3 linked regions of the Homo sapiens genome follow. The protein of the gene in region 1 purifies or fractionates together with the protein of each later gene. This does not show direct contact. Each region holds a gene or a part of one and is shown in the gene's direction. Other genes may lie near its edges.

Region 1 (3,750 bases):
ATACAAGGTAGTTAAGTGGTGGTGCCAGGATTTCAGTCTGATTCTAGAGCCTCAAGTTGTTTTACACCTAGATTTCTTACGTTTCTAGGTTTTCTGTTTTCTTTTTTGTATGTGTTTTGTTTGATGATTAGTACGTTCAAGTGAAGAAAACTGAGGGGTAGTTCTCTTGGAGGTAGCAATGAAGTGCTGTGGAGAGCTGAAACAGCTTGATATCTTTCTTTCCCCCAGGAACATACAGCAGTCCCTCTATTGCCTTTCTTTTGGTGAGAATTTTACAGAAATGGGATGAAGAGATCATCCCATTTCTATCCTAGACATCATCTATCCTAGGCAGTTACTATGCTTTGTGAATGTTTAATCTTACCAGGTTTGCAGAGGTTTTTTTGTTTTAAATCATGGCTTTGCCAGGTGTATATGAATTTCACATAGAGTACCAAGTTTACCAATAGCTGGCCTCATGGTTCAATTCCTTAATTTGAAAATCGGTGTTATGGTGATACTTATTTCATAGGATTGTTGTGAATTAAGTGAATACATGTCAGAACTGTTGGTACTAACATTGCTGGTGCCTGTGCTGTAGTACTTACCACCACCACTGCTGCTACTGCTGCTATTACTATTACCATGTATATTCCTCTAGTGCTATGGAAGAAACTTAAAATAGCTCATTGTAAGGAATTTTTTTTTTTTTTTAATTCTGATACCTGTGTATCTATTCATTGGGCAGGAGAAAGCCGTTTTCTTTTTTTAGATTGAAAGAATCCTCTCGGCCATGGTAGCTCATTTGACTTATTTGAAGATATAGGTAGTAAAATGTTGAAATGTGAAATGTAATTTTATATTTAATATGCTCTGCTACTTCTGATTTTTAGTTATATTTAGACTTTATATGCTGTATTTTATTTTATTTATTTATTTATTTTGAGACGGAGTCTTGCTCTGTCGCCCAGGCTGGAGTGCAGTGGCACGATCTCGGCTTCCCAGGTTCACAACATTCTCCTGCCTCAGCCTCCCAAGTAGCTGGGACTACAGGCGCCCACCGCCACACCCGGCTAATTTTTTGTATTTTTTAGTAGACACAGGGTTTCACCATATTAGCCAGGATGGTCTCGATCTCCTGACCTCATGATCCGCCCACTTCGGCCTCCCAAAGTGCTGGGATTACAGGCGTGAGCTACCGCACCCGGCCTATATGCTATATTTTAAGATGAACTTTGTTAGTCAGAATTGTACTTTGCCTCTTTTTTTTAATGCTCCCCAGACAAAATTCATTTTTTTGGTTTACTCTCAAGGCTTGAGATTTTAGACTTTTGATGAAGAGTAAGTAGCACTTTGTGAAAGGAAAGTGGTGTCTCATAAATAGTGTCTTCCTTGGTATTCCCTTTATGCTTATTGAGATACATGTTTATATATCTGATGTTGACCTTTTAATTTTTTACAAAAGTTTTTGAGTGCCCTTAACTTTGATGAACTTTTTCGTAGTTGGACATTAATTTCAAGAAGACAACTAAATATTTTGGGGAGATTTGAGATATTTTGTGTGAATATTTGAGTGTAATTAAGAGTCTTAAAGATTAGAGATTGGTTAGGTAGAACAGTAATATATTACAAAGGACCTTCAAGTTATATTTCCTTCTCTGACTTCTGGAAAGACTAATTATAGTGACAAAAAAATTGAGTTTAATTAGTTTCATAGAGTTTTATTAAGAATTTGTTGACTGTATGCAATTTCTTTGTTTTATTTGCTTTCTCAATTATGAAATAATACTGGAATTAGGACTATGGAGGAAATGTTTGTGGGTTTTTTTTTTTCTTTCTTTTTTTTTTTTTTTGAAAGACAGTCTTGCTCTGTTGCCTAGGCTGGAGTGCAGTGGCGTGATTGTGGCTCACTGCAGCCTTGACCACTTGAGCTCAAGGAATTCTCCCACCTCAGCCTCCTGGGTAGCTGGGACCACGGGCACGCACCACCATGCCTGGCTAATTTTTAAAAATTATTTGTGGAGATGAGGTTTTGCTGTGTTGCCCAGGTTGGTCTCGAACTCTTGGGCTGAAGCATTCTCCCATCTCACCTCTAAAAGTGCTGAGGTTACAGGCATGTGCCCAGCTGGATATTTCTTAAATGAGTATTTTTGGCTTCTAGTAACCTCTTTTAACAGATATAAATGGGAATCTGGAGTACATTTAGTTTTCTGGTCTTCACCTTGTTCTGTTGTGTATTTTTGTTTGTGAATTACCTTGGGGCAGTTTGGAAGTATGTTTGGAAGTAATGAGGCTTAGATCAGTGTAGAAAGAAAAATAAGGTAACTTGAAGTACTTTGCTAGAGGTGAGTCATTAGTATTTTTTGTACTATACCTTTATTATGGCACTTGTTTAATTTTGTATTTGCTATTTGCATGTCTGTTTCCATCAGTACTTTTAAACTTATTTAGAAAAGGGACCGTATTTTACTTTTGTTTCAGTTACAGCACAACCTGACACATATATTTGTTGCATGTAGTATATGCTCAGTAAATATTTGCTGAATTTCAACATTTAGTATTTTAGTTGAATGGTTTAATTTTTGATTACCTATATATTGGAAGGTGGTCATCTTTTTTTACTTTTTCTTTTTTTTTATGGAGTCTCGCTCTGTCACCCAGGCTGGAGTGCAGTGGTGCGATCTTGGCTCACTGCAACCTCTGCCTCCCGAGTTCAACCAATTCTTCTGCCTCAGCCTCCCGAGTAGCTGGGATTACAGGCATGCACCGCCATACCCGGCTAATTTATTTATTTATTTATTTATTTATTTATTTATTTATTTATTTATTTGTATTTTTAGTAGAGACGGGATTTCACCATGTTGGTCAGGCCAGTCCCGAACTCCTGACCTCAAATGATCCGCCCACCTCAGCCTCCCAAAGTGCTGGGATTATAGGTGTGAGTCACCATGCCTGGCCGGAAGGGGGTCATCTTTAAAAAATGGAGCCTTCTGTGATTATGGGAAGTAAGTAGGAAAATGGAGGCTTCTGTGTTTTTGGGAAGTAAGTAGGAAAATGGACGCTTCTGCGATTATGGGAAGTAGGTAGGAAAATGGAGGCTTCTGTGATTATGGGAAGTAGGTAGGAAAATGGAGGCTTCTGTGATTATGGGAAGTAGGTAGGAAAATGGAGGCTTCTGTGATTATGGGAAGTAGGTAGGAAAATGGAGGCTTCTGTGATTATGGGAAGTAGGTAGGAAATTGGAGGCTTCTGTGATTACGGGAAGTAGGTAGGAAATTAGAGGCTTCTGTGATTATGGGAAGTAAGTAGGAAATTGGAGGCTTCTGTGATTATGGGAAGTAAGTAGGAATAACTTGTAAACAGGCTTCTGCTTGATTCATCAGGTAAAGAAATACTATGGCCAATAGCACTCTTCATTAATTGGTAGATCTGCTTTGGGCTATTGTAAAATGGCTGATTCTTGTTATTATCCTCTTATGGAAGTGCTTTCAAAGTAGAAAAGAAGTTAGGAACGTAGGACATCTATCAGCTAGAAAACGAAACTGAGTAATTGAGTTAAGTTAAAATGAAAATAATTGACATTTCCTCTATCATAGATGATATCATCAAGTTGAATCGAAAGGAAGGGAAGAAGCAGAATTTTCCAAGACTAAATAGAAGACTCCTCCAGCAAAGTGGTGCCCAGCAATTCAGGATGAGAGTGCGATGGGGAATCCAACAGAATTCTGGTAAGTTTTGAAAGTAAGCTTTAATGGAAAGCTGTTATTTGTG
Region 2 (3,750 bases), on another chromosome or scaffold:
TGTTGGCCAGGCTGGTCTCTAACTTTTGACCTCATGATCCACCAGCCTCAGCCTCCCAAAGTGCTGGGATTACAGGCGTGAGCCACCGCGCCCGGCCTGGTCTCAAACTTTTGACCTCGTGATCCACCAGCCTCAGCCTCCCAAAGTGCTGGGATTATAGGCGTGAGCCACGGCGCCTGGCCGCAAAAATGGAACTTCTGCATCACAGGTGACTAACGGTGCCAGGCACACAGTAGGTGTTCAATAAATCACTTTGGACTAAAAGAACACAGAGGCCAAGGGGAAGTGAAGAAACGACTCACAGGTCAGTTTTATTGGGTGCCTAGTGCAGGGGTCAGTACACTACGGCCCTCGGATCAGCTCTGGCCCTCTGCCTGTTTTTGTAAATAAAGTTTTATTGGGTGCCTAGTGCAGGGGTCAGTACACTACGGCCCTGGGATAAGCTCTGGCCCACTGCCTGTTTTTGTAAATAAAGTTTTATGGGCACAGAGCCATGCCCATGGTTTTACATATTGTCTCTGGCTACTTTCACTCTGCGATGGCAGAGCAGAGTCATTGCCGCAGAGACTGTGGCCTGCAATGCTGAAAATATTTACTCTCTGGCCCTTTACAGAAAAAGTTTGCCAAACCCTGAGCTAGTGTGTGCTGGGCCCTGTGCCAAGCCCTTTGTGTGTGCTCACTCAGTTAACCCTCCCACAGCCTTAAGGGTGGGGGCAGGGGGGTGGGGGGGAATAAGGCTCCGAGAGGTTGAGAAACAGACCCAGGGTCACACAGCTTGGAGATGGGTGAGCTGGGAATCAGACAGACCCGGGACCCCTGATATTCTTTAGGATCTTAGCTTTGTTAACCTTTGCTAATTTATCTTATTGTCTTAAATGCTAAAATGAATACACATTCATTGTAAAAAGGGAGGAATAAAGAAAAGGTGTTGACGGCCTTCTTCAGCCTGGGGTACATCCTGCCGTATCTTTCTCCACAGCTCATCCGGGGCTACTTTCCTTTAAATCTACAGCCATTCAGCAAACATCGGCAGAGGAGAACCGTTTTATAAGAAAACTAAGAAGTTTGGAAGAATCTTTCCTTCCTGCCCACCCTGGACCCCCATGAGTAGGTGTGCTGGGGCTGGTCTGCAGTGTTCTCACGGGAAACCAGGAAGCTGGGCCCAAGGCCTACATGTTGGGGAAGACAGGTCCTGCCTGTCTCCTGCTGTGGCTCCCCAGTGCTCTGAGGACAAAGCCTGAGCTCTCCCTGATTCTCCACCGTCCCTCTCACTCACTCTGGTCGTCTGGTCGCTGGGCCTTTAGTGAGTGTGCCATGGGGGCCCTGGGGCCGATTAAATTCCAGCCCCGGGGACCAGGCTCAGCTCCCAGCCAGGGCACAGACAGATCAGCACCTGCGGTTGTCTCCACCCCAACCCCCGGCCTTTGCAGGCACAGCGCCCTCCACCAGATACTCCGGCAAAGGAGGCCTGGGGACCCTGCGAGCGGGGCCGGGGGTGCAGGGAGCTGTCAGCTCCTCGCAGCGGCCTCCCCAGGACCCCCCTATCCCCTCGCTCGCCCTGAAATGTGTGTCCCTCTCGGCGTCTGGGCTCTCGAGAAAGGCCTTTGCTTGTCTGACTTCGCGAGGGTCCCGGCTCTGGCCCAGGAGCTGGGGAGGGGCGGGACTTGGTGACAGCCGGGTCCCAGCACCGCGCCCAGACCTAGGCCCTTCTCAGGGGTGCCCCGGGGCGGGGCGCGCGGGGCGGGGGGCGGCGGCGGCGCAGCCGGCAGGAGGCGCAGCGCCCGCTCGCAGCGCGGGGAGGTGGGAGGGGAGCGGGGCGGGGAGCGGGGCGGGCGGGAGGGAGAGGGGAGCGCGCCGGAGACGCGCGCGCCCAGCCCACCCCCCGCGCCCGCCGCCGCCCGGACAATAAACAGCAGCTTTGCGCGGGGCGATGCCCGAGCCGGTGCCGCCGCCCCCGCGCCGCGCAGCCCCGGCCGCCAGGCCTTAGCCCGCCCCGGCCCCCGCCAGGCCGCGTCCCCCTCCCCTCCCCTCCCCCGCGCGCCACCCGCGCCCGCCCCCGCCCGGCACCGCGGACCCACCCGGACCTCGGCGGGGAGATGGAGTGAGTAGGCGCGCTCGGGCCGCGGGGCTGGGGGCCCGGAGCTCCGGGAGCCGGGGAGGGGGGAGGCCCCCTCTCTCGCGCCCCATTGGGGGCGTCGCTGCCCCCGCGAGGAGCAGGAGGCGGCGCGGGGCTGCTGGGGCCGCAGCGCAGCCGGGAAGAGACTCGGGCTGGGCCGCGCCTGCCGGGAGGCCTCCCCGCTCCCGGACCCCGGCTGCCCACCCACCGGCGCGTGGGGACCCGGGCAGCGGCGGCTCGGGCCAGTCCAGGACGCGGGGAGGGGGAGGCTCGCGTCTCCGCCCGCGCCCCGCCCGCGTCTCCAGGGCGAGCCTCGGCTCTCGGCCACCTGTGGGTGGCCCCGGGGAGATGGAGCGACCCCTCCCCAGATTGCACCGGTCCGGCCTCGCGCTCACGCACCCTTCCCCCGCCCCAGTCTGAGCGCACGGCTCCTGGCGCCCTGGACGCGCGCGCGGGCCGGTGCCCCCCACCCCCGCCCTTCCCAAGGGCCTCCAGGGGTGTCCTGAGCCCCCCGCCACTGCGCAGGTCCCGAGTTACCGCTGGAGGGAGAGGGGCTGCCCTCGGCTTCCCGGGTCTCTGGGGTGTGTGAGAAGGGAGAGGAACCGGCGTTTTCCAGCGGGGCGCCTGGGTGGGATACCCTCTCGGGGAAGTGTCTCGGAGCTGGGGCTCCACTGGTGTAGCTACAGGAGTGGGCTGGCCCTGGGCTGGGATCCCTGGACCCCCGCATGGCTGCGCCTGTGTGTGTGGGGGGGGGGTGGCCAGTGGAGGCACCGAGCGAGGGCGCGTGGTCATTTCGGACACCGGTCCCCTCCTCCCGGTGCTCGGGTGCCCCTCTGCCCCTCACTCCCACAGGTGGGCACTGCACGGGCAGGGGTCAGGAGGCTCCTCCTGGGGTCACCCACCTGCCCACTTCAGGACAGGGGAGCCAGCTGCCCTGCTGAGGCCCGGGTCCCCACCCCAGCCCGAGGACCGAAGACCGGATCTGGAGGCCGCCTGTGGCCCCCTGCCCTTCCCACTGGGCGTGTTTTCTAAGCCGCCAACTTTCCCCGGGGATTCACCCGTGACCCGCCACGCCCGCGGCTGGGTGGGGGCCGCTGCCTCCCTCCCTCCCTGGGAAAGCGAGACACCCAGTGTCCTCTGCTTTTGAAAACCCAGACAAAGGCCTGACCCCTCTCCCCGTCACCCCGCCCCGGGAGCTCAGCCAGGGGCTCAGGGGAGCCAGGGCCCAGACTTGCCTGCTCCACACCCCCACCCCCCAGCCTTGTTTATCTGCCCTGCTCGCCAGGCCCCGGAGGAGCCTCTGGGCCTCTGACAGCCAGGCCTGGGCAGGGTGTGGCTGTGGGGAGGGGGCTGCCTAGGAGGACGACGGAGATCTCCCTCCCAGAGGAGGGGTGTCAGCGAACACTCCGGGTCGGGCCCATTGTTTCCTTCCTGCCACCCCTTCCTTTCCCACGGGGGATACTGAGGCCCAGAGAGGAGCTGCTGCCCCCCCCCCACCCCCCCTCCATCACACAGCACCTGGGGCCGGGGGGCCTCGGTGCCTCCTGCTCTGCTCCACGGTTTCTCCGTCCTGGGTCAGAGGGTGGCCCACAGGTCCCCCATTGGGTCATCATTGCTTTTGGGGATGCAGACAT
Region 3 (3,750 bases), on another chromosome or scaffold:
AGTAAGAGCAAAGAAAAGAAGGTATGAAATAATTGTCCAGTGAAGTGGAAGAGTCACTTAATTAAAAGATGTAGTAAAACGCAAGACAATACTGAAGATCCACTTAATGTTAATCTGCTTAATGTATCCTACTAAATGTGGCTGGAGAAAGGGTAATGATCTTTTCTCCAGCCAGAATTTAGCTGCTTGGGTGGTATTATACTGTATAATGGATGGAAAATTGGATATAACTAGGGTTGGGATTTTGCCAGGCAAATACATTGAAAAAAAAAAAAAAAAGCAATAGGGAGTATTGGTAAAGATGGAACATGAAATTTAGGCAATGTAAATAAAAAAGTTTGAAAACTTTTTTTTCTTTTTTACATGTTCAGTATATGCCTTTCTTGTATGTTCTCTAAAAATCATCCACAAAATTTAGCTATACCAGAAAAGGTGGAGTAATGACCACCTCCCTGCAAAATTCAAGAAAGAAGTGACGTGTGCAGTCTTTCGTTCTGCGTTTTTATTTTAGGAAAAAAAAAAAAGACTTGTAGGGCAGTTGATTTTGCCCAGGTAGATGGATTTGCAGAACACAATGTTTATGACTTATAGCCTATAAAGAATAAAAATAGGGTGAGGATAAACAGAAATCCCAAAGAAGGTTCCCAGCCCATGTTTCCAAGGGCAAAACTAGAGAGAAGCCAAGGAAAAATGCTTTAACTTTACTTTCCGTTATTGCTCTTGCTTCGGTATGTTTTCTGGCTTGCATTGCTTCTATCTGTGTTAAAGTCTGAGGGTAATAAATTCTCCTGAGCAATTTAACTACAGTTTTAACATGAACTGTGGGCTTTTTCACAACTCCCTAAAGGAGCTCACACCGAAGTTTCAGGTATGGTACTGCTGGTTACAGATGTCACAGCCAAAAATATCAACTAGCCATTCAGACAAACAAAAGTTTCTCCTTCCTGGACTCCTTAATATTTCTTAATTTTTTGTAATAATGTTTAATTTGTAAAACGATGATTTGAGTGTATTTTTAAATAAATATTACTTCATGATAATGAAGCTAATTTCTTGGTTTGAGAATATTAATTTCCGTGCCCTCAGGGAATATCTAATAAGTAATTTCTTAAGGTTAAATTACTTGTGGTATGTACTCCCTTAATCCTACCAAACTTTCTATATGAAAGAAGGCATATTCTTAAGGAAAAAACTTAACAGCAGTCAGTGAATATTTAAAGGATGGCCATATTATATATCTTATGGATTGCTTTAGTTTCCTTGATGTGAAGCAGCTCTGTACTAGTTAGAGCAAAGCAACATGCGTTTAAAGTAGATTTGTCAGAATCACAAAGTGTTGATTAATACTAATTTTATTCTAGTGTGGAATTTTTAAAAAGATCAGTATGGACTTAGATTGTATGAGCTACTCAGTAAATATTTTTTATGCCCACTGTATCATTGTGGGTATTAAAAATTAGATATATTGGAGTTCTGTCAGTGAACAAGATACATAAAGATCCCTGTTGTTATAGAGCTTACATGCCTGTGCGAGAAGATAGATAATAAAATACATACATGAATAACATAATAATACCTTCTAAAGGAACGTATAAAATACATTGGACCAATGATTAATAATCTGATCAAAATATATAGAGAAAATATTTTCTCTTTGTAATTTGATAAAACAGTTAAATGGTAACCAAACAGATGCAGGAAATGATAACATTAATAAAAATATATTCATATATTCAAAGGTTGTTCAAACAGATGAAACTGCAAGGAAACCAGACCATGTTCCTATTAGCAGTGAAGATGAGAGGAATGCAATTTTCCAACTAGAAAAGGCTATTTTATCTAATGAAGCCACCAAAAGTAAGGGAAAATCTTTATAAAAATGTTTTGAACTGGATGAGTTTTTATTTTCACTAAGCTCTACACCTAAGAATTTGTGGAATTTAATCACAACAATAATAATGATGACAATATTGATTGATTTCATGATCATATTAAAGTCAGTGTTCATCTTTAACTGTGACTAAATTCATCATCTTCCCCACTATTGCCCTACTCTCAAAGATTGAAGTCTAATTCTCCAAATCACATTAACTGCATTGTTGTTGTTTTTCTGATTGTTTTAGTTCTTTAGATGGTGAGCAGGTCTAAAACCATGAATGAAAAGCTCTGTTTTTAAGGAATTAAAAATTCAGTTTAATGGGGTCCTTGTGGAAACTAATCTTTGGACAGACCCATTTAAATCACTTTAGGATAAAGAACTATAAACAGAAATATTCTTAGGTTCTTAGTCTTTAGTAATTAGGTTCATAATTACTGACAGGGAATACAGAATGACCTATATATACTTCCTTGCTAGATGGACTTAAATATAAAAATACAGGAAAACTGAATTTTTAATTCCTTAAAAGCAGCCATACACTCATCTGTTTTGACCTGCTCACCGTCTTTTAGTTTTATAAATCAGTGGTTTCCAAACTTTTGAGATTTTAAGCATGGACCAGTAGAATTTCAGGAAAAATAACCCAGAATAACAATAATTAGAAGGATCTTGGGAACCACTGATCTACAAAGATTTCAGAAATTACTTATTTTAATTTGACCAACTGACCCTGTTCTTAGTTACCAGAGGGAAAATGTTTCAGAGTCGGATTTATGGAATAAATTTTTGAACTATACCTAATGTTGGCTTTTTTATTGTAAACCACTTGATAGGAGATGTGCAGTACACAACTTTCTTATTTTGCTATTTATTAAAAAGTTTTTTTAAATACAGAAACGTCTCTAGTTTAGTGGCATTAAAACCATCGTTTTTTTTTTTTTAATTAAAAAAAATTGGCTCTCTTTAATCATGGGAAAAGCTGTTTTTGTGGCCTTCAATAACATTAGTTGCCTGAATTTTTCTTATGTTTCTCAGTCATTAAAAAATATAAAAAGGAATCTTTGAAAGTTAGTAAATTCACATTGCTTTTTACCTAGTAAAATCTTTACTGCTTGCTGTGGAACTTTGTTTATCTGGTTGGTATAATCAGGTGACCTTCAGATGGCAGTGCTTTCATTTGAAAAAGATGATGATCATAATGGACACATAGATTTCATCACAGCTGCATCAAATCTTCGTGCCAAAATGTACAGCATTGAACCAGCTGACCGTTTCAAAACAAAGCGCATAGCTGGTAAAATTATACCTGCTATAGCAACAACCACTGCTACAGTTTCTGGCTTGGTAAGTTTATTATTCCTTGAATAAAAATGCTCCTTTTTCATTGCCTCTTCCCTGACTTCCCCGTCATACCAACCCAGTCACTCAGAGATGTTAGAGAGGGAAGGATAAATATTGGATCTCATAATTTAAAATTTCAAAATATTTTCTGAAAATGCAGTCATCTGTATTGTGAAGTATTACATAAATATACATTTTTAAAATAAAAAATAAGCTCAAGATAGATTATGATTTTTCTTATAGGCAATAATCTTTTCACTGATCTTTACGTCATTCATACAAAGCAGGTACTCTGTTTTTCTTGAATAAAATGAACTTCCCTAATCTTTATTCATAATGATTCAGAATCTTTAAGTGCGGCCCTAGTTATTATACCATATTACATCATTACTCTATGTAATTATCTATGAAGCTATGTAGTTATTTACCCCTGTATTAAGTGATTTTAGACTGTTGTTATTTTTTGAGTTACAGCATGTGCTTTCAAAATAGGGAGACTGTATGGTTGAATTAATATTTTTTTAAATAAC

What was found.
Region 2: the proteins of FYTTD1 (region 1) and PALM purify together in Homo sapiens (affinity purification with mass spectrometry; 3 studies listed by BioGRID and IntAct, with this or other methods). This does not show direct contact.
Region 3: the proteins of FYTTD1 (region 1) and UBA6 purify together in Homo sapiens (affinity purification with mass spectrometry; 3 studies listed by BioGRID and IntAct, with this or other methods). This does not show direct contact.

Annotation. Positions count from the first base shown.
Region 1 is NC_000003.12:197,752,851-197,756,600, forward strand, and holds part of FYTTD1 (UAP56-interacting factor), read left to right. Parts: intron 1-2,819; exon of another isoform or gene 2,820-2,959; coding exon of another isoform or gene 2,960-2,984; intron 2,985-3,575; coding exon 3,576-3,707; intron 3,708-3,750. UniProt on the Homo sapiens protein: Required for mRNA export from the nucleus to the cytoplasm. Acts as an adapter that uses the DDX39B/UAP56-NFX1 pathway to ensure efficient mRNA export and delivering to the nuclear pore.
Region 2 is NC_000019.10:707,051-710,800, forward strand, and holds the start of PALM (paralemmin-1), read left to right. Parts: upstream 1-1,884; 5' UTR 1,885-2,096; coding exon 2,097-2,101; intron 2,102-3,750. UniProt on the Homo sapiens protein: Involved in plasma membrane dynamics and cell process formation. Isoform 1 and isoform 2 are necessary for axonal and dendritic filopodia induction, for dendritic spine maturation and synapse formation in a palmitoylation-dependent manner.
Region 3 is NC_000004.12:67,624,467-67,628,216, reverse strand, and holds part of UBA6 (ubiquitin-like modifier-activating enzyme 6), read left to right. Parts: intron 1-1,739; coding exon 1,740-1,857; intron 1,858-3,029; coding exon 3,030-3,223; intron 3,224-3,750. UniProt on the Homo sapiens protein: Activates ubiquitin by first adenylating its C-terminal glycine residue with ATP, and thereafter linking this residue to the side chain of a cysteine residue in E1, yielding a ubiquitin-E1 thioester and free AMP.